5 linked regions of the Homo sapiens genome follow. The protein of the gene in region 3 purifies or fractionates together with the protein of the main gene of each other region. This does not show direct contact. Each region holds a gene or a part of one and is shown on either strand. Other genes may lie near its edges. The genes, in order: METTL5, ITIH3, NTF3, CA1 and KCTD18.

What was found.
Region 1: the proteins of NTF3 (region 3) and METTL5 purify together in Homo sapiens (affinity purification with mass spectrometry; one large-scale study listed by BioGRID and IntAct). This does not show direct contact.
Region 2: the proteins of NTF3 (region 3) and ITIH3 purify together in Homo sapiens (affinity purification with mass spectrometry, with the first as the bait; one large-scale study listed by BioGRID). This does not show direct contact.
Region 4: the proteins of NTF3 (region 3) and CA1 purify together in Homo sapiens (affinity purification with mass spectrometry; one large-scale study listed by BioGRID and IntAct). This does not show direct contact.
Region 5: the proteins of NTF3 (region 3) and KCTD18 purify together in Homo sapiens (affinity purification with mass spectrometry; one large-scale study listed by BioGRID and IntAct). This does not show direct contact.

The regions. Positions count from the first base shown.
Region 1 is NC_000002.12:169,813,546-169,819,990, forward strand, and holds part of METTL5 (rRNA N(6)-adenosine-methyltransferase METTL5), read right to left. Parts: intron 6,099-6,445; coding exon 6,016-6,098; intron 2,834-6,015; exon of another isoform or gene 2,734-2,833; intron 1,984-2,733; coding exon 1,932-1,983; intron 1-1,931. UniProt on the Homo sapiens protein: Catalytic subunit of a heterodimer with TRMT112, which specifically methylates the 6th position of adenine in position 1832 of 18S rRNA.
Region 2 is NC_000003.12:52,795,193-52,801,637, reverse strand, and holds part of ITIH3 (inter-alpha-trypsin inhibitor heavy chain H3 isoform 4 preproprotein), read right to left. Parts: intron 6,036-6,445; coding exon 6,015-6,035; intron 5,158-6,014; coding exon 4,991-5,157; intron 4,900-4,990; coding exon 4,795-4,899; intron 4,534-4,794; coding exon 4,371-4,533; intron 3,822-4,370; coding exon 3,708-3,821; intron 2,673-3,707; coding exon 2,547-2,672; intron 2,267-2,546; coding exon 2,150-2,266; intron 1,886-2,149; coding exon 1,717-1,885; intron 1,101-1,716; coding exon 975-1,100; intron 674-974; coding exon 492-673; intron 1-491. UniProt on the Homo sapiens protein: May act as a carrier of hyaluronan in serum or as a binding protein between hyaluronan and other matrix protein, including those on cell surfaces in tissues to regulate the localization, synthesis and degradation of hyaluronan which are essential to cells undergoing biological processes.
Region 3 is NC_000012.12:5,434,171-5,440,615, forward strand, and holds part of NTF3 (neurotrophin-3 isoform 1 preproprotein), read left to right. Parts: intron 1-6,445. UniProt on the Homo sapiens protein: Seems to promote the survival of visceral and proprioceptive sensory neurons.
Region 4 is NC_000008.11:85,339,014-85,345,458, forward strand, and holds part of CA1 (carbonic anhydrase 1), read right to left. Parts: intron 3,813-6,445; exon of another isoform or gene 3,736-3,812; intron 2,702-3,735; exon of another isoform or gene 2,647-2,701; 5' UTR 2,623-2,646; coding exon 2,586-2,622; intron 1-2,585. UniProt on the Homo sapiens protein: Catalyzes the reversible hydration of carbon dioxide. Can hydrate cyanamide to urea.
Region 5 is NC_000002.12:200,489,540-200,494,789, forward strand, and holds part of KCTD18 (BTB/POZ domain-containing protein KCTD18), read right to left. Parts: intron 3,736-5,250; coding exon 3,633-3,735; intron 1,078-3,632; coding exon 561-1,077; 3' UTR 1-560.

The sequences.
Region 1 (6,445 bases), on a different chromosome or scaffold from region 3:
TCCGTACTGCATATAATACCTAAAACTGGCCGGGCGCGGTGGCTCACACCTCTAATCCCAGCACTTTGGGAGGCCAAGGCGGGCGGATGACCTGAGGTGAAGAGTTCAAGACCAGCCTGACCAACATTGTGAAACCTCATCTCTACTAAAAATAATAATAATAAAAAAAACAGCTGGACGTGGTGGTGCGCCTGTAGTCCCAGCTAGTTGGGGAGACTGAGGCAGGAGAAGAATCCCTTGAACCCAGGAGGTGGAGGTTGCAGTGAGCCAAGATCGTGCTGCTGCACTCCAGCCTGGGCAACAGAGGGAGACTCCATCTCAAACAACAAAAAAACACCCCTACTGAAAATAACAGGAAGACGAACAGAAGTGTATATTACATTATTATTATGAACAGTAATATATCTAGCTGTATGTTTAACACTACAGTGGCAATTCATTGTTAGTTTATTATTGTGAAAAAACATGTTCCCTTATTGCACTCTTATTTCAGGCTTAGATTATAATTAGCTTCTAGTTATATGCTTTTCCTGTTTTGATGTTTGTGACTATTACCCAATTTAGTAATAAAAATGTATCAAACATGATTTACTCATAGATATTTAGAAGAAAAAGATAAATGTTATTTGATTCCAGGGGTAATTAGAGAATGAAATTAGAGGCTGGGCTCAGTGGCTCACACCTGTAATCCCAGCACTTTGGGAGGCCGAGGCTGGAGGATCACTGAGGTCAGGAGTTCAAGACCAGCCCTGCCAACGTGGTGAAACCCTGTCTCTACTAAAGATTAAAAAATTAGCCGGGCGTGGTAGTGCATGCCTGTAGTCCCAACTATTTGGGAGACTGAGGCAAGAGCATCGCTTGAACCCGGGAGGTGGAGGTTGCCACTGCACTCCAGCCTGGGTAACAGAGCAAGGCTTTGTCTCAAAAAAAAAAAAAGAAAAAAGAAAATGAAATTAGATTATCTAGGAATAATGTGGTGGCATTTTCTATGAATGAATTTCAAACCAAGATCTGACCAACTCCAAGCCCACTTTTTTTTTTTTTTTTGAGATGGAATCTCACTCTGTTGCTTAGGCTAGAGAGCAGTGGCGCGATCTCAGCTCACTGCAAGCTCCGCCTCCCAGGTTCACACCATTCTTCTGCCTCAGCCTCCTGAATAGCTGGGACTACAGGTGCCTGCCACCACACCTGGCTAATTTTTTTGTATTTTTAGTAGAGACGGGGTTTCACCATGTTAGCCAGGATAGTCTCAATTTCCTGACCTCGTGATCCGCCTGCCTCAGCCTCCCAAAGTGCTGGGATTACAGGCGTGAGCTACCGCGCCCGGCCCACTTTTTTTTTTCATTTGTTTGTTTTTGTTTTTTTGAGACTGAGTCTCCTCTGTCATCCAGGCTGAAGAACAGTGGTGCGATCTCGGCTCACTGCAACCTCTGCCTCTGGGACTCAAGCGATTCTCCCGCCTCAGTCTCCCAAGTAGCTGAGATTACACGTGTGCGCCACCATGCCTGGCTAATTTTTTATATTTTTAGTAGAGATGGGGTTTCACCATGTTGGCCAGGCTGGTCTTGAGCTCCAAACCTCAGGTGATCTGCCCACCTTGGCCTCCCAAAGTGCTAGGATTACAGGCGTGAGCCACCACACCTGGCCCCCAGCCCATGTTTTTAGCCATTGTGCTGCTATACAGTGTTCTGCCTGAGTCTGGAGTGACCAAATACCTGAGTGCTATTAGAAATTTTCAGTAAATCGCATAAATTAGGACAGTCTCAGGCTAAGTGTTCATTCTGCTTTTACTCCATTTCCAATCTATTACCAATCATGCACATTTTGCCACACTGTAAAGCATAGTTTATCTTCTCAGCACCTGCATGAAAATTTTGGTTGGGCGAATACATGTTGGCCCTTTTGGATATTAGGATTGAGATTTGTCTTACCTGCTATAATATCTATCTTGATTTTCCATTCTGCAGCTTTCTTTTGAACATGCTGAACATAAATAATATGTTGTTATGAGCTGATTTTTAAATAATGATTTTTTAAAATTGCTTTTTACTAATACTTGAGATTGAGTTTTTAAGCTTAAAATTTCATTAGAATCTAGACCCTTATAAAAATTTCAATTGAATGGATAGTATTCTGAAAATAATAAATCAATTTCAATACATTTAACAATCTGAACCAAATCACACAATAAATCCAAGTGATAGAAAGCTACTCATGCACCACATAATGCCATTTGGGGTTATCTAGGGACTGCATATATTTTGGTAGTCCCATAAAATTATAAATGGAGCTGAAAAATTGCTATTGCCTAATGATGTAGCTATCTTGACATCACAGCACAACACATTACCTTCTTGGTGTTTATATATGTTTAGATCAAAAGAATACCATTGTGTTACAATTGCCTGTAGTATTCAATACAGTAATAGGTTGACAGGTTTGTAGCCTAGGAACAACAGACTATAACCACAGAGCCTCGGTGGTCCACTCTATGTTTGCACAATGATGAAATCACCTCAGAATGCATTAGTCAGAACATATCCCTGTTGTTAAAGGATGCATGACTATTTCAGAAATCTATCAAAGATGTGTAATGTTCTCATATGGTTTCTGTAGCATTATTTCATTGATATATACAGCTAGCTAGCCTAGAAACCATTTGGCAGAGATATAGGTACATGGGGAATTCAGTTCATGCAGTAAAACTGAGTTTTATAAAATTCATGTTATGCCAAGACTATACTTTCAGGGATCATTTCTATAGTTCGTTACTAGAGAAGTTTCTCCGAAAGTGTAGAGCACTGTATCATGAAAATGGCCATACTACCCAAGGTAATTTATAGATTCAATGCTATCACCATCAAGCGACCACTGACTTTCTTCACAGAATTGGAAAAAACTACTTTAAATTTCATATGGAACCAAAAGAGCCCACATAGCCAAGACAATCCTAAGCAAAAAGAACAAAGCTGGAAGCACCATGCTACCTGACTTCAAACTATACTACAAAGCTACAGTAACCAAAATAGCATGGTACTGGTACCAAAACAGATATATAGACCAATGGAACAGAACAGAGGCCTCAGAAATAACACCACACATCTACAACCATCTGATCTTTGACAAACCTGACAAAAACAAGCAATGGGAAAAGGATTCCCTATTTAATAAATGGTGCTGGGAAAACTGGCTAGCCATATGCAGAAAACTGAAACTGGATCCGTTCCTTACACCTTACATGAAAATTAACTCAAGATGGATTAAAAATCTAAATGTAAGACCTAAAAACTCTAGAAGAAAACCTAGGCAATACCATTCAGGACATAGGCATGGGCAAAGATTTCATGACCAAAACACCAAAAGCAATGGCAACAAAGCCAAAATTGATAAATGGGATCTAATTAAACTAAAGAGCTTCTGCACAGCAAAAGAAACTATCATGAAAGTGAACAGGCAGCCTACAGAATGGGAGAACATTTTTGCAATCTATCCATCTGACAAAGGGCTAATATCCAGAATCTATAAACAACTGAAACAAATTTACAAGAAAAAAAAACCCATCAAAAAAGTGGGCAAAAGATATGAACAGACACTTCCCAAAAGAAGACATTTATGCAGCCAACAGACATATGAAAAAATGCTCATCATCAGTGGTCATCAGAGAAATGCAAATCAAAACCACAATGAGATACCATCTCATACCAGTTAGAATGGCAATCATTAAAAAGTCAGGAAACAACAGATGCTGGAGAGGATGTGGAGAAATAGGAATGCTTTTACACTGTTAGGAGTGTAAATTAGTTCAACCATTGTGGAAGACAGTGTGGAGATTCTTCAACGATCTAGAACTAGAAATACCATTTGACCCAGCCATCCCATGACTGGGTATATACCCAAAGGGTTATAAATCATGCTGCTATAAAGACACATGCACATGTATGTTTACTGCGGCACTATTCACAATAGCAAAGACTTGGAACCAACTCAAATGTCCATCGATAATAGACTGGATAAAGAAAATGTGGCACATATACACCATGGAATACTATGCAGCCATAAAAAAGGATGAGTTCATGGGATGAAGCTGGAAACCATCATTCTCAGCAAACTATCACAAGGACAGAAAACCAAACACCGCATGTTCTCACTCATAAGTGGGAGTTGAACAACGAGAACACATGGACACAGGGAGGGGAACATAACACACGGGGGCCTGTTGGGGGGTGGGGGGCTGGCGGAGAGATAGCATTAGGAGAAATACCTAATGTAAATGACAAGTTGATGGGTGCAGCAAACCAACATGGCACATGTCTACGTATGTAACCTGCATGTTGTGCACATGTACCCTAGAACTTAAAGTATAATTAAAAAAAAAATTCATGTTATGCCAAGCTGTGCAGAAAAGAGTTCACAGCAGGCCTGGCTGCTTATCCTTAGAAAGGCCTGCTTAGTTTGGCCCTTGTCTGGAGACTGGGAACTTAGATTTTGGGAAGCCTCCCACTCCCTACTCCCTTAATAATAGTGACTGACTGTGCCTAACACTGTTTATGCTGAACACCTGTTTTCCTACTGGGAGTCTAGAATTTGGGTATGTGTCAGAAAGGGAATTGCCTACATGATCAGTCCCTAATAAAAGCCCTGGGCACTGAGTCTCTAATGAGCTTCCCTGGTTGGCAATGTTTCACATGTGTTATCAATAATTCATGCTGGGAAAATTAATTGTGTCCTGTGTTATTCTACTGGCAGAAGACTCCAGAAGCCTGGCCCTGGTTTACCCCATTCTCTGCCTAATGCACCTTTCTCCTTGCTGATTTTGCTCTATATCCTTTCACTGTAATACATCATAGCCATGAATAAGACTAGATGCTGAGTCCTGTGAGATTTCCTAGTGAATCATCAAACCTGAGGGTGTTCTTGGGGACACAGGTTTGGATACCAATGTTTACTGGTGTTTGCTTTCATATATAGTGAGTGAGGATTTATTTACTAGCTATGTTGTGTCCTGTTGCTTGCCTACATGTACCACTACTTATTATTAGCAGTATAGTTCTTTTTAGCTGTTATATTTTATGCTTTTTAAAAGGTTATCACATTACCATGTAACTAGAATGTATTATTTCCAACTGGGTTCTTACGTACTGTATTTACATGAATTAAGTATTTTTCCTACAAAAGCACTTTAAAATCTTTGAATACATGTATGATTTAAATAATAATAGCTAACACATAGCAATTACACATGTCAGACACTGATCTAAGTGCTTTGTAAATATTAACTCATGTAATCCTCACAATTCTTATGAAGTACAATTGGTACTCTCAGTCCCTTACACTTAGAGTACAGGTGAGGATAGTATAGATGACAAAAGCTCAATTACCTTGATGATGAAACTCAATTACCTTGACCAAGAAAACAGCTGGGAGGCAGCAGAACTTGGATCTGAACCCAGAGAATCTGGTCTGGCTTCAGAATCTCTGTTCCTAACTATTGTGTTATACTGACACTAAAAAAATGTACTGCCCCTTCCCCCAGTTTCCTGGACTACAACTTATACACCTCTCCATGTGTTATATGCTGCAAAAGTAAGAATAGGTGATTTCTGAACTCAGATCTGTTTAGCTCCAGGCTCAAGTGTTCTGAAAACCTGGCCTTACTGCCTCCCTTAAGTACATCAGGCCACACCGGGACAATGGGACAAAAGGGATCAACTAAGACTTACTCAGAGAAACCAAAACATACAGTAATCCTAGTTACAACACACTTTTCTACTCCTGAGTTATAGTCTCTCCTCTGGCAACAGTTCCTGTCTGAAAAAAATCTTTGAGGAAATAAGTCTTATAGCCTGGAAAAAGGCCAATCAGATGCTAGCTGGTTAAGTGGAAAATTTAAGTTTCACATGTCAAAATGGTCAGGAGAAATAGATACTGTGGTATCTAGTATTCACAGCAAATCCTAAAAACACTGTCATGAATTTAAAAATCAATGCCACAGAATATCAGATGATTTGAACTTACTTCTCTAGTTGAGGATTTGTGTAAGGAATATACTGCTGTTCTTGCCATTTCCAAAGCAGTCTTTAGAAAAGCCATATCTGTCCCTGTGAAGAGTAGAAAAAAAGCTCCTATTTACCTCTTCTCAAAACAGAAGATTAAGTTAGTAGGATTTAGAAATATTTTCTTCCAAACTTCAAAATAGCCACCTTGAAATCTTTTAGCAATAAGGGTACAAATAAACTATCAAAATATTATTTTAAGGCTGGTAGAATAAAACCAGAATTATACTGTCTTGGTTAAATAAGGATAAAGTAAAAATTTTAATATTATATTCCAACATTAATGACTTCAAAAAGGGGAGAAGGAAATGCATAGAGTACTATTCAGAATCATCTTGGTGGGGGCAGGGTACTTTTTAAACTATGCATGTCTTTTTTTTTTTTGTTTCGCT
Region 2 (6,445 bases), on a different chromosome or scaffold from region 3:
ACAGGGAGAAGACAGCCATTGATAAGCCATGGAGAAAAGGAAAGAGGCCTAGAAAGATCTGCCCTCATAGCCCTCAGAAGGAACCAACCCACCGCCACATGGATCTGGGATGTCCGGGCTCTGGAACTGGGAGACAATACGTTTCTCTCATTGAAGCCACTTGGTACTTTGGTATGGCAGCCGCCATACACTAATACAATGTCCTGTGCAATATTTGGGGCATACTTACACTACAAAAATTCATTATTTATCAGAAATTCATATTGAACCAGATGTCCTGTGTTTGCTCTGATAATCCTGTTGAAGAAACGGGCCTGTTGTGTAGCCCAAGGACAAAATCAGAATCTTTACTGATGGGTAAGAGATAGTCAGAGGTGGATTTTGACCCAAGACGAAGCTCTTCCTAATAACTAGAACTGTCACCTTATGGAGCAGCTGTCTGAGGAAGTAGTGAGCTCCTTATGCCCGGAAGTGTGCAAGACAAGGCATACCTGCAACTGCAAATCGGCATCAGAGTCCTCATAAATGCGCCGGGCAAACCCATGGTTCTCCAGGGCCATGTTCTCCAGGAAGTTATAATTCAGATTGTTGCCAAAGCCCAGGTTATACAAGGGGAACTTGCCCCCGATGGCATTCCGCACATTCTCTTGGATTTTTTCGGGTCTGCTCTCACCTGTTGGAGAAGGGGGTGTTCACAGTCCAGCCCCAGCCCTGGGGATGGTCTAGACCAGCTCTGTCTGGGGAGACCGGACTCCTGCACATGCAGAGTTGCTGGAGTCACGACCATGAGCCCTTGTGGGGCAGGTGGTGGAGAGCCCTGGCAGAGGGAGGCAGGACCCTGCCCTTGAGGGGCTCCCAGACCACAGGGAACCCAGGGAAGAGCTGCCCCAGGTTTTCCAATGAGCCAGCTACAGAGCCAGGAGCAGCAGCCAAGCACTCCAGCCCTAGCTCAAAACCATGCCCGTGCTCCTCACCAACATTGGCATCCCCATCAGTCAGCATGATGACAATGGAGGTGCTCCTCTCTGGGATTCTGTGCTCCTCTCGGGCCTTGTTCAGCATACTGATGCCCCTCAGCAGCCCGTCATTGATGTTGGTCACTGGGACACAGACAGACAGCACCGTGGGAGGGTGTCCTCAGGGTGCCAGTGTGCAGACAGGCTGGAGCGGAGGAGGCCGGGACAGCCGGCCCCACTCATGTGCCCAAGGACCCTATCTGCCAGCCCATGGTGGTACTCAGCAAACAATGAATGAACCACCACATGAACAAACAAACAAACAACTTCCACTTTCAAATGGGGATGAAAGGCACATGGTGAAGACGAAAAGCACATGGTGATTGTGAAAGCCCTTTGGCAGAGTTGGATGGACTCCCAGTACCTCTTGCTGGGAGGAGAGGGGAGCAGTGTAGACATCGTGCCATTTTCCATATGAAACAGGGCCAAGAAGAAGGGTTCTCTGTGGCCTTATCTTGCTGGGACTTGTGAGATACCAGGATCATGGATTAGAAACAGAAAGAATGGGTTTCCCTGGACCACGGAGAAGACAGCCGATATTCTGTCTTCAAGCCTGAGGACCATCCACTCCCACCTCTACCCCAGCTCAGATCTGAAGAGGGCCTGAGACCAGCAGAGTCCCTAAGAGGGGGGTTGCAGGCTGCTCAGGGACAGAGGGAGGCACCGCTAGGAGGTGTGTGGGCTCCAGCTCCGCTCTTACTTCCTTTATCCTCCATGCTCTTCACAAACGTCCTGGCCTCCTGGAGGTTCTCGGGCGTGGCCTGGACTAAGTGCTCTTTCCATGTGGACACATCTCCACTGAACAGGATGAAATTCAGATAGTCTTCCTCTTGCATATCTTCCAGGATTCTGAGAAGGGCCTCCTTTGTCTGGAGGAGAGACAAAGAGCTGGGAGAAGCCGCAGCAGAGAGTGAGGTCCCTTCTCAGCTCAGCAGGCGGTGCAGCCCACGCCATCTGCACCAGCGAGCCCTGCCTGAGGCTTGCCACAGAAGCGGGCAGAGGCCGTGAGCCTTCTCTTATCCTGTCCCCTTTCTCCTCATTCACCACAAAGATCAGCTTTTTCCAGTTAAAAAAAAAAATCTCTTCCACCCCCTACTACCCCGAGCCCTGGCTGTGCCACTGGTGCTGATTACCTGCTCTAATTTCCGACCAGCCATGGAGCCGCTGATGTCAATCACAAAGGCCACGTTCTTAGGCACCACTGGAAGGCCTTGAGGTGCAAAGAAGTGCACGAAGTAGCCATTGACTATCTGGAAAGTGGGGAGAGGGACGGAGGCCGGTGTCCTTTTAGCAACACCACATTGACTATTCTTGCAGGTAGAAGCCAGACATTTACCAGCCCAAGAAAAAGACGTTCCTATCCCACCCTCTAGGGGGTGCTGCACCAGGCTCTAGGCCATCAGCTGTCCCACATCCTGCAGGAAAACAGCCTTGGGCTGAGGACCCAGGGTGATGGCACTAGATCCAGCTGCAGCCCCCGCCCGACCAGCCCTCGCCCCACCCTGATGATGAATCAGCCAGCCCGGGTACCTGCACGTTGCCAGGAGATTCTCTGTTCACGTCATAGGTGATAGTGAAATCTCCATTGAGGAGGGAGTCTGTACAGGTTGGGCATGAACGCTGTTGGTCTAAGCTGGGCTTGAAGGACACATGGCCCTAAGGGATGGAGATGAAAGACCTTGCTCAGCTCGGCCAGGGCCTGCCCACTGGGAGACCTCAGCCCTTAGCTGAGGGAGCAGAGGTGCAGCCTCACAGGGAGGAGCCCTTGGCAGGGCAGAGGCTAGCAAGAGCTGGAGGCCTGGGCAGCCCTGCCCGCCGGTGGCGTGCTCTGCAGCTCCCAGGACTCACTGGAAGGCACTGTTTACCACGCTCCGGCCTTTCTGAGCACCGCTTTTCCCCTTGGAGATCAGGGCTCCTGGCTGGGCACAGGCCTTGGCTGATTCAGCTTCCAGCTCCCTTTTTCTTGGCCTCACACACCCATTAGCCCAGGCTACCTTGGAGCTCAGCACTGAGAAGCTACTTAGGGAAGGGGTAGCTTCCCATTAAAAGGAATTTCTTGTAGGTTTGGAATGTTGGTGTGTGGGTGCCAAGAGGAGGGGAGGGAGAAAGGAGGAGAAAGGGGAGGAGGAGGGTCCCGGGGCAGGATGTGGCCCTGCAGAAGCCAGCAGTCCTCTGAGTGTGTGCTCCTCGGGCCTCGCCCTGGAAGTCCTGGATGATTGGTTTGTTGTTTATACAAACATTTATTCACCCACTGTCCACTGCCATTAAGGCCCCTGGAACAGCTGGGAGCCTTGGGGACTGGAGTCAACCACCTAGCACCAAGAATGAAGTTCTCTTTAGTCTTTCACCTCTCATTGTGGAGTCAGTAGATCTAAATGACTCCCTTGGGCTTCAGCCTCGGGACCTGTAAAACAGGGAAGATAAGCCCTGCCCTGTCCATTTCCCAAGGGGGAACGGGACCAGGCTTTGTAAATGGCTCCTCTGGCAGGTCATTGTCAGCAGCCCCTGCCCTCAGCATCCTCACTCCCAACCCCAGTGGGCAAGGAGGAAGGTGATAGTTGCAGATTGATCCCCAGCCCCACCCCAACACATGCATGCTTGCAGCAGCTAAGCCCTAGGCTGCAGGCTTGTTCTGCTGGAGTCAGTATTCCTGTCCCCTGCCCCACCAGGTCTGAGAGGCATCTACATCACCTTTTTCCCTGAGAAGGACTTGGTGAGGGCGCTTCCCAGGAGGTCGTTGGTGATGAAAGAGGCCTCAGCATCCAGCATGCTGATTCCCTGAGGCTCGAAGATGTCTACCTCGATCTGAAATGGCCAAAGTAAGGAAATGTCACTCAGTGACCTCAGAGGCCAGTTCCCAGAACAAGGCCAATGGGAATGAGATGGGTCTGTGGTGATGCAGGGACCCTCTAGGACAGTGCTGAGGGCCAAGCCTGGTGTCTCCCACTGCGAAAGTGACCACAGGGGCTTGGAGGAGAGTATGCTGATCGGGAGGTGTTACCACCGCCTGCCATATGCGCCCGAAATTCCACCACTGATGCTTTTCCTTTGGCTTTCAGCTTTGAGGTAGGAAAAATGCCCATGTGCCCAGTGAGAAGCCTTACAGAGGCACTTGCTGGTGTTGCTCTTGAGGGCCCAGCACCGAATCTGCATCTGTGGAGTCCATCCCAGCCTCTTCCCCTTGGCCCCAGATGCTTTTGGCCAGAACCATTGAATTCCTCCAGCCTTCCCAGCCAAGGATGGGGGATGCCGTGAGGCAGAACTTTTGTTTTTGACCCCTGTCTGAGACTGCCCCATGGGCGGGTTCCTGCACCCCGCTGCCGTCCCCCCAGGTCTGCAGGGGCGGTTGATTACCTCAAAGTGTTTGACCAGTTGCTTAGGCTGGACCTTGAGGTACATCTCGTACTTGCCCTTGTGCCTCTTCAGCAGCTCCTCGTAGGTTAGCTCGAAGGTGACTTTGCTGCCTGCAGCCACGTTGACCGAGACTGTGAACTTCTCCAACTTCCTCCCAGAGGCCCTGACCAGGGTGCGAGATGGTGACTCCCTCAAAGACTGCAGGAGCCCACCCTTCCTCGGCCCTCGGCCCCAGGCCCAGCCCTTTGGCGAGGGAGATCCCTAACCATTCTGAGCCTCACTTGCCTCAGCCTCAACGTGGGATAATGGCAAAATTATGGGCACATTTTGCTATACCAATAATAATAGCTGTTGTTGTTGTTTGTAGCCCTGAAGGCCCTTGGATCCCAGACATTCTCCCCAAGGCCTGGGAGTCCATACTTACTTGACCAAGCCGGCCGTCTTGCCCTGGGACACAGCCTTTTCATACTGCTTCTTGGCAACTTCCTTCTCCTTGACATTCCCAGGGTAGGTAACACCGTCGATGGTCCTGCAGGGAAAGAGAGTTGGGGGTAGGGAGATCACACTGGGCCAGACCCCCTGTTCCCGAGCCCAGAGCCAGCAGCCATGGTGGTACCCACAAGGTGAAGTTGGTGATGAAGGCCGTCTTGGGCAGCTCCACATCAAAGGAAACCTCCTTGGCCGTGTCTGCACGGTTGACGGCTCTCATGGTGACAACATTGTGAGCAAAACGGGAGGTCACCTTGGAGTTGATTTTGGTACTGTAGACCTCGATGCCATTGGCCACCTTTGGGGAGGTGGGTGGAGAATCAGCCAGACTGGGACACTGGAGAAGCAGGTTTGCAACCCAGCCACCTCCCTTGCAAACCCTTGGAGGCTCTGAGGCCCCTGCCCGGCACGCAACCCTCATCCTCCAGGTCTTCTACACTGGAAGACTTGGTGGCGTCTCCAGTCTCCATGTTCTGGTGGCCACCATTATTCAGATGCTTGTCCTGCCTCCTTAATTCTGCGATCCGTTTACACACCACTGCAGCCAGTGAGAGCTTGCCCTTTCCCGTCCAGTCACCCTGAGCTCCAGCTATGCGTGGGACACTGGCTCTGGAGCATCTGCCCCTGGCTCTTCCTGCTCATCCTCCACACCTCACACTCCCTCAAGCACACAGCCCAGCCCACCTCCTGGGTCTTTAGGTAATTGCCTCATTCTGTCTCCCAAAGAGGAACTGATTTCCTGTGCCAAGGGAAGTCTCCAAACACCCTCTTTCCAATAGGGGTGTTGAATTTTGAGAGGCTCTAGGGAGGTGTTCCAGCCCCCTCCCCCTAGGGATATAAAGATGCTTCGTGAGGGTGTGGCAGGGACCGCTTCACAGAGCCAGGTACCAGCAAGTGCTAAGGAAGTGTCTGCGGAAGGAAGGGATGCCTGTGAGGGGCCCTCTTGGGCTACATCCTGCGAGGTTGGAGGGGTCGTCACTCTGTGGTGCTCTTTCCCAGGAGTCCTGCGCTGTTGGAGGCTGCCAGGGCAGAGGGCCGTAAGCTGTTTGCCAGCTGTGAGGAGTCAGCTGTTATAGCCTACACCTTCAGCAGTTGGGGAACCAGCTCCATCCTGCCCTGCCCCACTCGGTCCCACCCCCTGGTGAAAGTTCTTACCCCTTCCGGGAGGCTCCGTTTCTGAAAAAACAAAAACAAACACAAACACAGGAATCAGGCCAAGGCCAACACCAAGGCCGCATGGCCTGGGAGGCTCTGGGCTGAGACCAGGGGTTCAGTGGTGCCCTGCCCCCCACACACCTGAGTGGCCCCCAGACATAGGACCCTCCAGAGCCACATGTCAGAGTAGGAAAAACTCTGAATAGATGGGGAAACTGAGGTCCAGAGAGGGGCAGGTATCCAGGTTACCAGGAGAGCAGGGCAGGGGGAACTGAACCCAGAGCTCTCTTCACACCCTACATGCCCCACCTCATTCTATCTCCCATTCTGCCTTTCCCTGGCCCCCAGGCCCCTTTAGGCCTCCTTCCAGAGCACCCCTGCCCCCGCCACACCCCGCAGGGCTCAACTGAGCATTTTGTAGAGGTCACACT
Region 3 (6,445 bases):
TAGAATGTGGAGGATAAACTCCAACCCCCTCTGCCTTGGGCGCAAACACACAGACTTAGGTATCGTGTTAGGAGGTAAGGGGGTTGGAAAATAATGCAGGCTCCGGTAGACAGTGTTGAAGGGAGATAGAAAGTCTGGGGTATTTCCCCTAGGGAGAGTGTGTGGGATTTTGTGTTGGTGAGGACTGGAGTGTAGCTGGACTTAGAGGGTTTGGTTGTGTGTGAATGGGATATGCTTATCTATGGAGTGAGATTGTGACCATTGAGTGAGTGGTCAGGGAGGGATGGGGATGTTTTTCCAAAGTGTGTGTGTGTGTGTGTGTGTGTGTGTGTGTGTAGGGGAAGGTGGCAAAAGAGCTGGAGTCCTATCCCTCTTTGGTGCCTGGGAGGTGTGTGTTTCTGGGGAGTCTGTCGGATGGGCATCTGTGTGCTTAGCGGGAGACAAGAGCTTGCAGGAACATAGGTGTAGCTAATGCGAAATCTGTGCCTATGAAGGGTGTCAGAGCAGGAGGAGAGGTGCAGCCTGTTGAAGACAGATGGCTTGTGCATGCCTGCACAAACACATGGAGTGGGTGTGGTGTAGGAGGGCGGCTGTGTGTGTGAGGGAAAGGTGGATGCATGTGGAAGGTTGGGCGCCTGAGGATTACCAAAGGGATGTGTGTGGGGGGTGGGGGAAGATTATCTGAGGAGCACGGGGTTTGAACTTCATGAGGGTGCACTGGGAAATTTGGCTGGAATGGCACTGGGGCATGTAGGGGGTAGAAAAGTGTGAGCTCAGATCCTCTTTATGGAAAGACAAAGCATTTGCAGGGAAGGACACCGGGTTGGTGTTGGTGTTTGCCTCCCCCCTCCTTCCTCCCCAGAGAGAAGAGAATTGGAGGAGGCTTAGAATGAGGGATGTACATTTAAGGGGAAAAGTCCTTGTGCATTGGCACTGGGTGGGAACAGGAAGAGATGTGTGCATAAGACTGAAGTAAGTAGAGGAATGCACTATCTGTGCCTGGTGTCAGGGATGCATGTTGTATAATGTTTTGTAATGGGTTTCTTATGTAATAGGAGAATTCACTATCACCAGTTCATATTGATAATCAATTAAAGCTAATGGAGTGCCTACTGGATGCTCAGCCCATTGCTGGGTACTGGGGCATGGCACACTGCCCTGGAAAAATTCCTTCTCCAGGCTCAGTAAAACTGATGCAATTTTGCCAGAAATAGACAGAGCTCGACGCTTGTTGAGGTTTCTTCAAGGTCTATAATTCAGTTTCTAGAGATGTTTATGGATCTTGGGGGCCAAAGGGAAGCTGACTTGAAATATATCTCTGGTTTTGTAAAAAGTGGGGCATAAAGAGAGGGATGATGTAGACTTTTGTGTATTGGGAAGGGAGCTGGACGGTGTTGTTGTTTCTTGTGTGGGGTGTGGGCTGGGAATTGGAGGGTGCTGCACTTCAGGTCAGAATGCAGGTCCAGATCCCTCTAAGGATTGAGTTTCTAAGAGTACACAGAGCCTCCTTCATAGCTGGAATGAGACCTGTTATGTGGAGCTGGAGAATGGTGAAGTCATGATCAAGGAAGAGATGGACTGGGAGTGTTTGTTCATCTTTGATGTTTTCTGGGCTACGAGTGTAAAGCTAACCTGAGTGTGTGTTGGGGGGGTGGGTATGCATGCAGGTGCGTGCACATGCACTTTGGCCTGGAGTAACGTAACTGGGAGAAAACTAGCGAGGTGGATAGGAGGGGTGGATATTCTGGCTCTTGTGAAGGGGGTGCCAGTATGTGTTTTTGCAGGAATTCTGTGTGTCTGGGGAAGGATAAAAATTGTCTTGGATACTCAGATGTGCATCTTTAGCGAAAAAAGGTGTACACAAAAGAAGGGCCGTAGACTTTGGGGAATGAGACAAAGGTGTCGTTGATCGGGTCCATACCCTGAGATGGCTGGTGAGGCAACTGGGTAGGAACAGAGTGAAGGCTGTGCTTTTGTGATGCACACATCTGCCTGTCTGGAGCAGACGATGGGGATCCCCATTTGATTAGGTTCTGACCACCGTTGGGCATATGTTTGGGAGGACTTTATTTGACTCATGACATTTTTGAATTCATGAAGTTACAGCTGTGCCATTTTAAGGGTCTACCTTATTTTTGAGAGGGAAACTCATCTGTGTAAGAGATAGTTTATATAGGGCTTGACTATTGGTCAGAAGATCCGGGGCAGATATTTCTGAGAGCAGGGTGGTGAAGTGCAAGACTGGATTGGGAATGTCTTAGTTCTAGTCCAGTTCTACCACTTGGGAAAAGTGTGACTTTGGGGACATTTTTAATCTCTATAACTCTTCTGTTTCTCTTTTTGTAAAGGGGCAATATAATGACTCAAGGAGAAGGAAAGTTCACTCCTCTTTTCCCCCATCAAAACTTGATGTGTTTAGTTGTATACAGCCATACAAAGATGAAATGTAATTAAATACAGGTGCTAGCACGTATGTAGGTCATTGTGAAAATAGGATCTGGACCCCTTTCTCTTTACAATGCAACTTAATCAGTAATCATGATGCCCACAGCATCTCTACTGCTCACTCATTGTGTAAATAAAACTTTTTATAACTGCCTCAGTTTACTCATCCAGAAGCTGGAGGCAGCCAAACCTAGATTATAGATGATGGAAATCTTTAAGATCTTTGAGCTATTCAGAGGAAAGGTAGTCTAAGAATCAATGTTATTAATGATCAGAGACAGACATTTCTTTATTTTTTAACATCAGCTATGCAGACCACAGCACCAAAAGAAATGTGACGTGGAGAACAGCAAAAATAATAATTGCCCTTGACATAGGCACCATTTGAATAAAAGAAGAGCAAAGTCTAGCCTGCCTGGTAAGAGGAAAGCCTGGGCTTTGGGTCTTTGAAATTCTTTGTGCCCAGTGCAGCAAGTTGGGTACAGCCACTTTCCCCAGAGATGAAGATGGAGTCGTAGAGGGGCATGGAAACACACTGAAACCTCCGATTCCTCCCAGAAGTCAGTACATGCTGTCAACTCCTGGCTCAGAGTCAGGCTCCCATCCTTGAGTTCAGTGGCCATAAATAGTCAGGAGCTAAGCTATTTCCAAGAGGCACTAAACTAATTCTGTTGCTTTTCTTGGCGAGATTGGGCCAATTAAGTTGATTGGAAGAGGTCACTGCTGATGGGTCTCACATTCCCCAGGCGGGACAGGCCAGCAGAGTTTAATTACATAACATTTCCCATGTCTTCACTTCCACTCCCAGATGTATCAGATGTTCAGGCCTCTCCTCTTTCCCTACATTCAGGATGCCTGACGGAGCAGGCGGCTTCTGCTACAAGCTTCTCCAGACCTTTTCCTGAGCAGTTACAGCACTCCCACCCCAACTGGAGGGAATGCAAGTCTGTGCATTGCCTGGAAGTGAGAGAGGGGATGCAGGCTGACACAGAAGATCTTTAGAGCCCACCACCCTGCCTCAAGCCTCACCCGCGGCTGTTTTACTCTTTAACGAGGCAGGCAGTTTCTGGCGTTGGGGATGTTGAACTAATGACCGTTGCTAGGGTTTTAGATTTAGTTTTATTTAAAAATGAGTTTGTTGGAAAAGGACCAAATCTTCTACTGGAGACAAGCCTAAGCCCCGTGTGGTGCTGCTGATAAGGTCTGTGGATGTACTTTGTGCATGGACAGGCATGTGTGGAGTAAGAGGAGAGCACAGGATGTGCGTGCGTGCGTGCTGGGGGACACGTGAGCGTAGGAGATGCCCTGGGTAGATGGGGCATTTGTAGAGCTTATGTTATGGGTGGCAGGTATCTGGATGCTTGGCTCAGATTGGATTGTCATTGGATTGCTTCTTACAGGTGGGACAGCCTGAGAAAAAAGTTGGGGACACCTTCCTTCAGATCATTTTTATATGGGCATGTTGAACCTTGAAGTATGAGGCCAGTGTAGATATTACCTCATTCTTGCCTGGATGGATTTCTAACAAGATTGAGGCTGGACAAAAAAAAAAAAAGTCTTTCAGAGGACTCATTTTAGAACCTGTGAGAACACATGTAGATGGCCCCAGAGCGTTAAAGTATTTTTTGTTGTTGTTAATAGTTTTCCATAACTCAGTCTTTTGTTTTACCTAAAAATACTGAGAGGCTAGAGGTTGCACACACCCCCACATGGTCAGAATGCATTTGCTGTTCATGTCCCCATCTGTGCCATGGTCCTTCTCAAATAGGATTAATTGGGAACTACGGAGAGCTTGCCGCAGCTTTGGTTGTCCTCACAGGACAAACCTATGACTGACCGTGATGTCATTGAAACAGAACAGATTTTGACGTGAAATTTCGTGTGGTCTGTTGTGATTGCTCACTTTTTAGTAACATCTCCAGAGAAGACATTTGTTGAGCCCCATTTTTTTTTGTGGGTTTGTTCAGTCAGAGATTTGTTGGAAGATTTAAGGTTCTCCAACATTCAAGGCCAGAGATTTTGGAGGAAACAGTAGCTAACAAGAGCCCAGGCCAGGGTGACCTTCAGTAGCCTGAGGCAGCAGGTAGCTGCCTGACTTAGAAGTGAAGGACCAGGTTCAGTGACTGGGCTCTGTCACTAATTAGCTGCTACTGTGTGACCCTGGACATTCTCTGTAGGACATGACTTTGCCATCTGTAAATGAAGGGCTTGAATTAGAAGATCTCCCAGTCCCATTCCAGCCCTGTCACTGTAGGATTCCACAGTAGCCACATCCTCCTACCTAATCAGTGCTAATTACCTCACTTGGAGTGCACCCTGGCACGCCCTTAACGAGCTCCTGTTTTTATCTTTGGGGAATGGCTGAGTCAAAGGCAGAAAAGCGTGCAAAAAATTTGCCAGAGTGTTTCCTTTTGGCCAAGAATGCTCTAAACATTGGCTTAGCCTACACAGGGTGTGCAGAGCTGAAAGGGGTGGGATTTGGCTTTCTGGTAGGTCTGATGCTAATCATTCAGCTTCCACGTGAATGTCTTTCAGTGGCAATGTCTCTGACTAAGGTAAGCATCCATCTTTAAGATGATGGATGATGATGATGATGACAGTTAATATTAGAGTACTTACTGGGTGCCAGGCATTTTTACAGCTATTACATGGCATTATCTCAGTACTCAAAATAATCTCATTTACAGATGGGGGTACTGAGGTTATGTGAGGTTAAGGGGTATGCTGATGTTCTTGGCTTTCCAGCCTGAAGTCTGTGGCATCCCAAGCCCATCACCTGCTAGTCAGATTCTGTTTTTTATGTCTGTGATGTCATCCAGATGGGAGCTGGGTCCATCTTCTTCTGCAAAGTTGGTCACCCCATAGGGTAACCTGCTCCCTGCCCCCGGAAGCCTCCTTGTCATGTGCAAGACAAATGTTTAGGTTTTCTAGCCACCTGCTGGCAAGCATGTGTCAGATCTGTCTCAGCCTCCATTGGCCCTCTCCCTTTACTTCTTGTTCTGTTGACAAGGGAACCTGCCCTTACAGAATACGGATATTGATTTAAGCCACAATTGCCTCCTTGTAAACTCTATAAAATTGGAGCTGGACATCTGGTTTTGATCCACACGCCCACGAGAGGTGGTAGGTCCCAGCATTCTTGAGTCCTGGAATTGCACAGAATCAAAGTGAAAAAGAATATGAATGGAGAGCATGAGGTATCTTTAGAATTTGGAAGATGGCTTTCTTTGATAGGCTAGGGAACTCACACCATTTAGACTGGGGCCAAAGTTAAGGTAGGTTTCTTGCTGGGAGGTTGGGGGGCAGGGGTCACTGCTAAAGACTGAGGTCCCCAGGCTGTGTTTGATGCAGAGCAGAGCAGCTGTAGAGCCCTCCAGCTGAGGATTTGCCACTGCACACCATTCTCTGGGCAGTACCAGAAATAGAGAAGCCAAACAGGTTCTTGGGGTGGATGTTGCCCTGTTTGAAGATTGTGACTAAAGGCTCATTCCTTCTTCCTCCACTGATTTCCTCACCATCACTACCACATATACATCATCAAGACAGTTAAGGACAGGTGACTTTGTTCTGTTGCTTAAACATATTTGCATGTACAAATAAATGTTGAACACTAACCTAATGCCTATTAGACCATAGGTACTCAAAAATTATGTATTTACTTTGCTTAAAATAACCTTTCATGTGTAGGGTGATAATTTTTTTCTTCATATGGAGTATATAGCCTTTTAAAAACTGATAGCCAGGTTCTTGCAATTTACTTCCCCCTTCCCTCTGTTTCTAGATCTAAGACCCCAGCATTTAAAAATATCCTTCTCTGGCTCTAAGTGATCCCTCAGGGAGTTTGTTTCAAGTTCTCAATCTGAGATTAGTTTCATCCCACATCTAGAGGACCTGCTTCTAATGGTTCATAAGGTACTTCCACTGGGTTCAAGAGGAAGACACAGCTCTAGAAATCACCTGCTTTCCCAACAGGTGTGTCCCATGGTGGGGAAGAAGCCCA
Region 4 (6,445 bases), on a different chromosome or scaffold from region 3:
CCCCTTTTCTATATTGTACTATAAAATAGTGTATTTGTCAATACTACTAATATAGATCTATACTCATAGTCTATAGAATCAGACCATACATATTTTATTATTAGCAATAGATTTCTAATACAAGCTTAACTCATTTTATTGCGCTTCACTTTATTGTTCTTTGCAGATATTGCATTTTTTACAAACTGAAGATTTGTAGCAACCTTGCATCAAGCAAGCTTATTAGGGGCATATTTTCAACAGCATGTGTTTATTTCACGTCTCTGTGTCACATTTTGGTAATTCTCACAATATTTTAAACTTTTTAATTGTTCATATATCTATCATGGAGATCTTTGATGTTACTATTATAATAGTGTTGTGGCACCATAAACCATGTCCAAGTAAGATGATGAACTTAATCTGTAAATGTTGTGTGTGTTTTAACTACTTTACTGACTGGCTATTCCCCATCTATCTCCCTCTCTGTAAGTCTGCCTATTCCCTGAGACAAGAATATTGAAATTAATCTGTTTAATAACCCTACAATGACCTGTAAGTACTCCAGTGAGAGGAAGAGTCACATGTTTCTCACTTTAAATCAAAAGCTAGAAATGATTAAGCTCAGTGAAGAAGGCATGTCAAGAGTTGAGACAGGCCAAAAACTAGACCTCTTGTGCCAGTTAGTCAAGCCGTGAATGCAAAAGAAAAGTTCTTGGAGAAAATTAAAGGTGCTACACCAGTGCACACACAAATGATAAGAAAGCAAAGCAGCATTATTGCTGATATGGAGAAAGTTTGCATAGTCTGGATAGAAGATCAAAAACCAACAACCACATTCCCTTAAGCCGAATCCTAATGAGAGCAAGGCTATAGCTCTTTTTAATTCTGTGAAGCCTGAGAAAGGCAAAGAAGCTGCAGAAGAAAAGTTAGAAGCTAGTCGAGGTTGGTTTATGAGATTTAAAGAAAGATGCCATCTCCATAACATGAAAGTGTGAGGTGATGTGGCAAGTGCTGATACAGAAGCCGCAGACAGTTATACAGAAGATCTAGCTAAGATAACCAATGAAGGTGACTACACTAAACAACAGATTTTCAGAGCAGACAAAACAGCCTTCTTTTGGAAGGAGATAGCATCTAGGACTTTCATAGCTAGAGAGGAGAAGTCAATGCATGGTTTCAAAGTTTTAAAAACAGCCTGACTCTTTTGTTAGGGTCAAATGCAACTGTTGACTTTAAGTTGAAGCCAACACTCATTTAACATTCTGAAAATCCTAGGACCCTTAAGAATTATACTCAATCTACTCTGCCTGTGCTCTGTAAAAGGAACAACAAAGCCTGAATGACAGCACATCTATTTACAGCCTGGTTTACTGACTATTTTCAAGCCCACTGTTGAGCTCTACTCCTCAGTAAAAGAAGATTCCTTTCAAAATATCACTGCTCATTGACAGTGCACCTGGTCACCCAGGAGCTCTGATGGAGATGTACAAGGAGATTGATGTTATGCTTATGCCTGCTAACACAGCATCTATTCTGCAGTCTATGGATCAAGGAGTAATTTCAACTTTCAAATCTTATTTAAGAATACACTTTGTAAGGCTGTAGTTCCCATAGATAATAATTTTTTTTATGATGGATCTGAGTAAAGGAAATGGAAGTTGTCTGGAAAGGATTCACCATTCTGCATGAACATTTGTAATTCATGGGAGAAGGTCAAGTTATCAACATTAACAGGAGTTTGAAAGAAGTTAATTCCAAAGTCATGGATAACTTTGAGCCTTCCCAACCTTCAGCAACCACTATCCTGATCAGTCAGCAGTCATCCACACTGAGGCAAGACCCTCCACCATCAAAAAGATTAATACTTGGCTGGGCGTGGTGGCTCATGCCTGTAATCCCAGCACGTTGGGAGGCCAAGGAGGGCAGATCATGAGGTTGGGAGATCAAGACCATCCTGGCTAACACGGTGGAACCCCATCTCTACTAAAAATACAAAAAAATTAGCTAGGCGTGGTGGTGGGCACCTGTAGTCCCAGCTACTCGGGAGGCTGAGGCAGGAGAATCACTTGAACCTGGGAGGCAGAGATTGCAGTGAGCCTAGATCATGCCATTGCACTCTAGCTGGGCGACAGAGAGGACTCTGTGTCAAAGAAAAAAAAATTAATACTTCTGAAGGCTCAGGTGATCACTAGCATACTTTAGCAATAAAGTATTTTTAATTAAGGTATGTAGATTTTTTAAACATGCTATTGCACACTTAATAGACAACAGCATAGTGTAAACATAACTTGTAAATGCCATGGAAAACTCCAAATTTTATGTGACTTGCTTTCTTGTGATATTTGCTTAATGATAGGGGTCTGAAACTGAACCTTCAGTATCTCTGAGGTATGCCTGTATATATATATATCAAACATATTTTGTAGTCAGCCATGCCCCAAAAGACAATGCTAAGAATACATGCAAAGATAGTATAATTATTTAAAGCAGACAGTTCAACAATTAACCTATAGCTGTACAATTATTTTAAATACTTAATATCTTTTCTGTTGGAAATGGGAACAAGTTATCATTTTGATCTATATAAACAGGAGAACTCTTACCATTTTTGTCATCATATCCCCAGTCTGGACTTGCCATTATCTTCTACTGAGTTTTCTTTTTCTGAAAACAAAAATAATACCTGGAATAACTAACTGCAACTGTGCATGCAGGAGATGCCTTAAATCCCTGCTTGGGCGTTTTTATAGAAACTTACTTGCTTTTAATAGGCCATTATTTCATCATCTCTGCTTATCAGGAAGTACACATATCTAAAAAAAAGGTGTTGTAAAAAATTCTACAAGGGCTATGTTAGTTTCAATTGCTTAATTTTCTTATATTGTAAAAGAGAATTATCAGATCCTAGATTTTATAAAGCCAAGTCCTGTTTCACTCATGTTAGTAGAAGATATGGCTTAATATTATAATATGTAATTCTTTAGATTTTCTAAATGAAAAATACTTTGTACACTCAAGATTTCCAACTCTACCTTTGTTAGTTACCTAAGCAATATATGCAAAAGTAATTTATCAGGAAAATAATTTGTGTGTTTACAGGCTGATCTGAACTAGTATCTTAATGTTAATTTAAAATCAGATAATTAAATTACTAATCATTTGTAATATATGTTATTTATAATGATACATTTTATAGATATACAGGGTAAGAATAAAGTCCATTTTGGAGCAATATTGGAATTCATAAATGGAGAAGATTTTATTAATATTAAAGTTAAATATAACACAATATTTATTTTATACATCAAATAGGTCTACAAGAATAAAGGTCTTATTTTTTAATAGCTCTATATAATTTATAAACCAGTTTCTTATTATTTTATTTCACCATCACACATACATACAAATGCTATATAGTAAGAATTAGCATTTGTAATTGAGAGATGTTGAGGTACTTTGCCACAACTGGCAACAAGCCAAGAAGCCAAGACTTCAGCCTCCTAATCCAGTTCCCTTCTTCACTGTACCTCCACCAAATGCCACACTAATTCCCCTCCTATGCTCACAATACTCTTAAGTGCAAGTTAAGCCTGGACCAAGATGAGAACTGATGCCAACTGAATGATGAGAAGGTACACAGGACTTTTCAGGATGGCAAAGAAAACTGATTAGGATGTGCCAGACTCTGGCCAGTTCTACATGTTCAAAGCTCTAAACATGCTCAAAGAAAAGAAAACCGGAAAAATAAGCTACCATAGTGATGCTTTTTTCATGCCATGACAGTCATTCCTCCTTTCACATGGTAAGGATTGTCTGAGCTGCTGCAACCCCTGAAAGAAGAGAGGGATCAGGAGCAATTTTCACTAAGGCTGACTGGAGACACGTTGTTTGCTCCTTTGCAGTTAGTGATGGTTCGTTGTCTCATATGCAGAGTGGGCTGTGGTCATGAACATTCACAGAGTGGGAAGAGGCCCAAGCTCCCATTCTATGGCTTTAGTAAGCATAAGAAGATATTGCTTAAAAGAGAATTCTTTTTTTTTTTCCAAAGTACTGTTTATTGAAGGCCCAACAGGGATCAACTGCTGTGCTAAAAACTTTACGTACATTAACTTATTTAATTCTTATTATAACAAAATTGGGCATTAAAATCTGTGTTTTAGGCTGAGGTGGGAGGATCTCTTGCACCTAGGAGGTCCAGACCAGCTTGGGCCACATAGTGATACTCTGTTTCTGGAAAAAGAAAAAAATTGTGTTTTACATTAAAAAAATATTGAGGCTTACAGAGGTGAAGACACCTCCTCAGAGTTACAAAACTTGCAAGTGGCTGCTTATATCCCATAAGCCTAGGGTTTAAACCTAGATCTGTGTAATTCCAAAGCTAATACATTTGCTTAGCCTTCCACTGTCAACAATTGTCCACTGACCTCCAGTTGATTCTATTTTCTGGAGGATTGGATTAGGTGATGTAGCTTGGTTTGGCTCAAGATGACCAAGAGTCAGGCTTCATCCTTGGGCTTACTTCACTCCGGAAGCTCATGGAGTGACAGGAGCAGGCTACCCCCTGCCAGGTAATTTGCCTCCTAATATTGTATACTTTGTAAAAAGCAACTTTAGCTTGAACTACTCTATTAATCAACAAATTTGAAAAACAGCAACCCCCTTTCATTACACGACTATGTGATGATTTGTCACATGAATGCTTTAACATCCATATGGAATGGCAATTTATTTAAAGTTTTAGGCACAGAATGACACTGGACCCTAACTATTATCACCTTTTATTTCATTATGTACCCAGGGTGTGTTATTGTACTGGCAGAAAATTATATAGAGAAAGGATATAAAGTTTAATGAGCCTTTATAAGTCCAAACACCCTTCCCATTTACCTTTATCCTTCTTTTTCTGCTTACAAATTTTGCTTCTCTCAGCTGAATCTATGCCAAATTCAAGATGTTTAGTTTTGTATTCACTTCACTTTCACCAACAGTTTCCTCCCAGTATACTTTTCCAGGATGATCTTTGGGTTACTTTTGCCTACCAAGAAGGAGTTTAATCTACACAGACTCTGCTCTTCTAAACTAAAAGTATATATATATATATATACTTTTAAATTTTATATATATAAAATTTAAATTTATATATATAATTATATATTATATACTGTATATTATATACTGTATATAATATATAATTATATATTATACAGTATATAATATAATTATATTATATACAGTATATAATATATAATTATATATTATATACAGTATATAATATATAATTATATATTATATACAGTATATAATATAATTATATATTATACAGTATATAATATATAATTTGAATTTATACATATATTATGTATATTAGATTATTACATTTATTTATTAACACCAATTAATTTCTAAATTAAATGGTACTAAATTTAGGGTACTAAATATTTTTTAGTACCCTAAAATGTTTTTCAAAAAAGCATTTCTTCAGTGTTTTTAAGTATCTATTTAAATCAGTTTTAAATTATATTTAAGAGCCTTAGTATTTCTTATTTTAACTTTTGTTCTTCTAGTTCCTTTGATACTTTTCATCTAATTTTTATTTTAATATTTTAAAATCAAAAACATGAACTCTTCTGGAAGCAAATAAATTATGGTGAGTTTCAAATTTAAATTTGTACTTAGAAAATAACTCTCTGCTATAAAAGGAACAAAAAGTGAAAAAGAGTGCCATCCGTGCCTAGTTATGGACGAGATCTGCTAAATGCCACTGAAAGGAAAAATCCACACCTTGGCAGGACCAAATTCCAAAAAGCCAGAGCTGCTCTACAATGCTTAGAGTTCCACAACAATAAGTGGCTTTCCTGGGATTCATATTTTCCCTAAAATGAGGAAATATATATTGTGAAAATAATGTCATTGTTGACTATTAAATTTGGCCTGACTCTCACATTGCCTCCTAAATTCCCTGCCCCTCTAGAGATGGTATCATTTGGGGTGGCAAGATAAATCTTATTTCCAGTGGAGAAGTGGGTCATGGAAAATGGTGATATTAGCCTGGACATTTCTGCATTGAGACAACTAGAAATTCTGATTAATCAACTGAAGTGGCAGGATGGGTTATCTGGATTTCACAGCTATCATTTTCTCTCAGTTGGGCTTTCTCATCACCTGTAACAAAGCTGTGTTGGTAACTTTATTCCTTCCAATGTTTGTATTTGTCTCCATCCATACCGAGCTTGTTCCCATTTTAGGACCTTTGTGCTTGCTGTCCTGCTGTCCAGATTGCTCTGTACCCAGACCTTTGTATAGCCTCAAATATCTCCTGCTTAGAAATGACTTTCCTGAACTCCAAATTCACATGTCCTCCTTTTCCCAGTCACTCCATTATATCATTCTGTCTTATTTCTTTCATAGCATTTGTCACATCTTGCTTGTATTGTGAAATTAATTTACTTGCTTAATGTCTATA
Region 5 (5,250 bases), on a different chromosome or scaffold from region 3:
AAAGTGCTAATTCAATCTATGGGGTTTTTTCCTCCCCATCATTTCTTTTCACGTTGCCTTTGGAGACAGAGTAATTTGTAGGCAGCTCGCCTTGATCTACATTTTCTCTCTCTAATCTCTCTTGGCTGTGATATAGTACAGGGAACCACTAATATCACCCCCTCCATTTTCCCAGACAGGAATACCTAAGGCCAAACCTCATGCCCATCCTCGGGTTGCAACAAGTAACGTTTACTTCAGCAACAAAGTGGACCTCTCTAGAGATTATTTGTTGTACTGTCTTGTTGCCTTAATACGAATTAATCATTAAAAAATAAATTGAAAACCAGAAATTCAAACTGCCCATAGACAATCATATAAAAGTTGGGAAAATGAGAAATGGAGCCTTAACCATTGAAAGTCTCCCCTCCTCCATTCCTAGCTCACACAATTCCAGGAACAGAATCCTCAACATAAACCTAAGCTTCCCCTCTGCTGCATTAAGAAAGTGTCACTTCTTTGCGTCGAATGGGTTGAAAGCTTTGGGAGATGAACGGGAAATTTCAAGTCCACCACTTTCATCAATTTCCCTTGTTCTTCCCGTTCTCAGTCCGCACTCCCAAGGCACGGGCAGCTTCGCCGGGAAGCGGCTTGAGGGAGTTGGCCTGCCTCGTGGCCGTGGGGGAGGGCAGGCAAGGCGCGGTGGCGCACAGCGGAGTCCTCTTCAGCTTTATCACCCGCTGGGGTGTAGGCTTCTTGTCGGAGAGTAGCACCTTAGCTGGAGGTAAGTGCGTGCCTCCATTTTCAGCGCTCGCAGCCCCAGGGGAAGCCTGAGGATGCCCAGGTGCCCCCGTGCCCACCAGGGCCGTGGCTCTGGAAGGTGCAGAGCGCTGAGCTGCCTTTCTGCGGCTACCACTTTGAAACCGGTTTGCTGTCGCCCCAGCCGACGTCTGGATGGCACTGGCTGGAGACACCGTGACTGAGGCCGAGTTCTTGACTTTAATTTGGGTACTTGTGGAAGGGCCCAAAAATCTAACTGGCTTAGGACCAGTCTTATAGTTCACACTTTCGTCCGCTTCATTGAACGTTATCAGTCGCCTAGAAATACAGAAGCGTGTCATTTTCCACATGTATAGTTTTAGTAACTCATGAAAACATCTCCCAAGTTTACCTTCAGCATTAACAGAAAGGTTTTGGTCAAGAATTAAAGAGTCAAGAGGTTTATGGGCACCTACCTCATCTCTCATCTCCCACCAAGGTCAGTAAGCAAGTTTACAAAAGATTGGTCTTAATTTGAATACGAATTATGTAAACTCACACACATAATATTAATACTAGCAAATTAAAATTTGGCACTTTACATAAGAATACAATATATCACCCTGTTCCCAAGTATCATGATGTGACCTACGGGATAACCAGAAATATCACAAATTGTTTTTCCCAGAACTGCAGTTTAAAGAGATTTAGTAAAGAAAAAAAAAGATTTCACAATCAAATAAATATTAGAAATATTGCTTGATATAGTTTGGCTGCATGTCCCCCCCGAAGCTCATGTTGAAATGTGATCCCCAATGTTGGAGGTGGAGCCTGACAGAGGTGTTTGGGTCATGGGGGAGGATCCCTCATGAATGGCTTTGTGCCCTCTCCCATGGTAATGAGTGAGTTCTCACTCTATTCGTTCACGTGGGAGCTGGCTGTTTAAAAGCCTGGCATCTCTTGCTGTCTCTCACCGTGTGACATATCTGCTTCCCTTCACCTTCTGCCATGATTGTAAGCTTCCTGAGGCCTCACCAGAAGCATATGCTGGCCCTAACCTTCTTGTACAGACTGCAGAACCATGAGTCAAAATAAACCTCTTTTCTTTATAAATTACCCAGCCTGATAGTCCTTTATAGCAATGCAAAACTAATAAACTGCTGCATATCTTTTTTTCTTCTTGAAGCTTTAAAATTCATGTTAACATATTAAAGATTATGAAAGGCCTATACTAAAGATATCTGTATTTCCCAATCATTCTATAGTGAAACCTTTGATGGCCAGTAAAATTTGCATTCTTTGGAACCCATTTTGGGGACTGCTAGAACAGTCATGGACAAACCTTCAAAGATTCCAGAACTGAGTTTACCATTCATTATAAAAAGCCTACGGGGGAACATTTTTTTAAATGACCTTAAAACCGTCAAACAATCATTGTCAAAACCTTGCCTGCTCCTTCAGCTTCACTTCCTGAGGACCACCCCAAGCATGAAAGGTGACTGCAATCCTCTCACTCTGCTCTCTTGCAAGTCTGCATAGCATCAATGTGTCATTAGAGGCGATTACAACTTATTCAACTCCCATTCTTGGAAATGGGATCATAATAACGTGGTTATTTGAAAATTGCCATCTGTAGCAAAGAGTGCAAATATAATATATTCAACCCTAAATCCCTACTGAACATTTTCCCTGGTCACCAGATGGCTCCTTGGGACCTTACAAGTGCTTCTCAGTCATCATCATCGTTATCCTGTTGATGCATCAAAAATAATGCTTCGTAAACTTGTAGAGGAAAGATAACTAACACAGAGGAGGGTCTCCGTAAACCACTCCTGCCTGCCTGCTATGTTTTCCATCTACATCTTCCACCAGACTCCACACTGAGGTTTCTCAACCTCGGCACTATTACCATTTTGGTCACATAATTCTTTGTTCTGGGGGGCTGCCCTGTGCACTGTAGGATGTTTAGCAGCACCCTTGGCCTCTACCTTCTAAATGCCAGTAGCAACTCTCACCCCACAGTGTGTCAACTAAAAATGTTGCCAAACATTGTCAAATATCCCCTGGAAGGCAAAATCACCCCTCGTTGAGAACCACTGCTCTTGACTCAAATATATTTGCTAACTGTAGGCTCAAAAGGTAAAATAAATGATAATAAAATTATGGCTTTTAAGAAATAAGATCTGTTTTGACAAGTGATGGTTAACTACTAAAAACTGAATAAGCATCTCCGCATTTCAGTGAAAGACCCAGAGGGCAAATGTAAGAAAGTAGTCTGAAATTCCATACGGGCATTCAATTAAATTGTAGAACATGTGATCAAGAAATCAGAACATCTGAAGGCCATGAATAAAACCCAGACACTGTAAAAAAAATGTGATTTTAAATGTATTTAAAACACAGTGAAAGACACAGCTGTGGAGTGAATTTAATGCTAATAATTTCATGGAACACAGGAAAATACCATTTAATAAAAGTGCTATTTGTGGCAATAGGAAACAGAAAGGAACTCAGAATAAGCCACAAGAAATTTCAAGTATTAAGTCTAAATAGATTTTTTTTTTACTATTGCCAGTAAAGCCTGGGATTCCACTTCTGTGGAGCAAAAATATTTACCACAGCATGCCCACTGTGTCCACTAGTAATTTTAGAATCACTCTCTCAATAAGAACATGTTACACATGCAGTTACAAAGAATTATAGCCACTTTTTACATAGTTTTGGTAACTTTATATTTATCAAGATCTATATTTTGATGGTAAGACAGAATATTCAAATCGGTGATTAATAAGCTTAGTAAGGTCAAGAATTATTATTCATTTTCCCTTCACAAAGGCAGTAAAAATGTCAGCGATTAAAAAAACAAAACAAATAAACAACACAGCATAGATAACCTCTTTCGAATTGGAGCCATGTGACGCAGGCTTCCAAGTAAAGGCCGTTCTTCTAGAGTCCAACACTCTATCAGCTCATGAGGCACCCGCCAGTAGCTAACACCTGGAAGGTAAAAAGACATAATTAAGACAGCTACCATCCACTGCAAAATGCTGAGCAACACTGTTTCGCCTAAGACCTGCCAGAGTCTGAGGTTCATGCCTCCCGTTTGGCAAAGAGAGGTGTGCACAACATGAACAGGAAGCGCTCACACGAGGAGCTAGGGCCAGGGAGCAACACAGCTCACGACCTGGGTCAGGAAGAGCTGGCCACCAGCTTTGCCACTGATTAGCTGAGAAGATTCAGCAGGTTATGATGCATACTCAGGGCAGCTGAGAGTGAGGGCTCAGGCTCCAGCAAAGCCTGTGTGGGTCTCAATCTCCATCTCTCACTCACTATTCATGTCACCTTGGGAAAGTTACTTTTCTGGGCCTGAATTTTCTCAGCTGTGAAATGATGACAATAATAGTATGTACCTTGAAGGACCACTGTGATGATTAAATGAGTTAATAAATGCAAAGTGCTTAGAACAGGGTCTAGCACAGACTAAGCACTCAAAAACTGTCAAGTACCTTTATTCCCAGTAGTCGTAGGGAGCAGTATAAGTATTGTATAGGGGGTGGGTTGTAACACTTGCCTTGTCTACTTCACTGGGTTGCTGTAACATCAAATCAGGGGAACTTTGTGAACTACTCTGAAAATGGCAACCACTGTACAAATATGAGACATCACCACCCGATAACCACCTTTTCCAACAAGAATCTGAGCTAGTGAGTTAGGCAAAAATGCCATTCAAATTCATTTTAATTTTTAAATCTGTTATGTTTTTTATTAAGAGCTGAAAAATGTATTTATTCTTGAAGCCTCGAAAACATTATGCTAAGTGAAAAACACCAAACACAATAGGTCACATTTGTATTGTTCCATTTGTAGAGCTATCAAGAGTAGGTAAATCCATTGAGACACAAAGCAGACTGCTGGTTGCCAGGGGCTGTGGGAGACAGTGGAGTGGGGAGTGACCGCTTAGGGGTTCCTTTTGGGGTGATGAAATGTTTAGAACTGGAGAGAGGTAATGATTGCACAACATTGTGAATGTAGTAAATACCAATGAAATGTATGCTTTAGTTAATTCTGTTATGTGAATTTCCATCTCAATTTTTTTTAGAAAAGAAGCATAAATATATACACATGAAAAAAGCTCAAGGAATTATGTTGAATAAAAATTGCTTGGAGTAATCTAAGTCCCAATAATGGATTTGGTGTTGTCTTCTTATTAAACTTCTGGTAACAATAACAATTTAGCAAGCTGGGCATATAAATCATTATAATGATAGACATATCTGATACTCAAATAACTCTATGATCCTCATTTTAAAACAATTAACTTTCTGGAACTGCTTGATCACACTCCAAAACCTACACATACTATAAAAACATTCCCAAATCCGGTCCATTAAGTTTGCTTTTTCTAAAAGTCAGATTTATTAAGATATAATTTATGTAAAATAAAATTCACCCTTTTCAGGTACACATTTCAATGAGTTTTGACAAATGGATATAGTTATGTATCCATAGTCA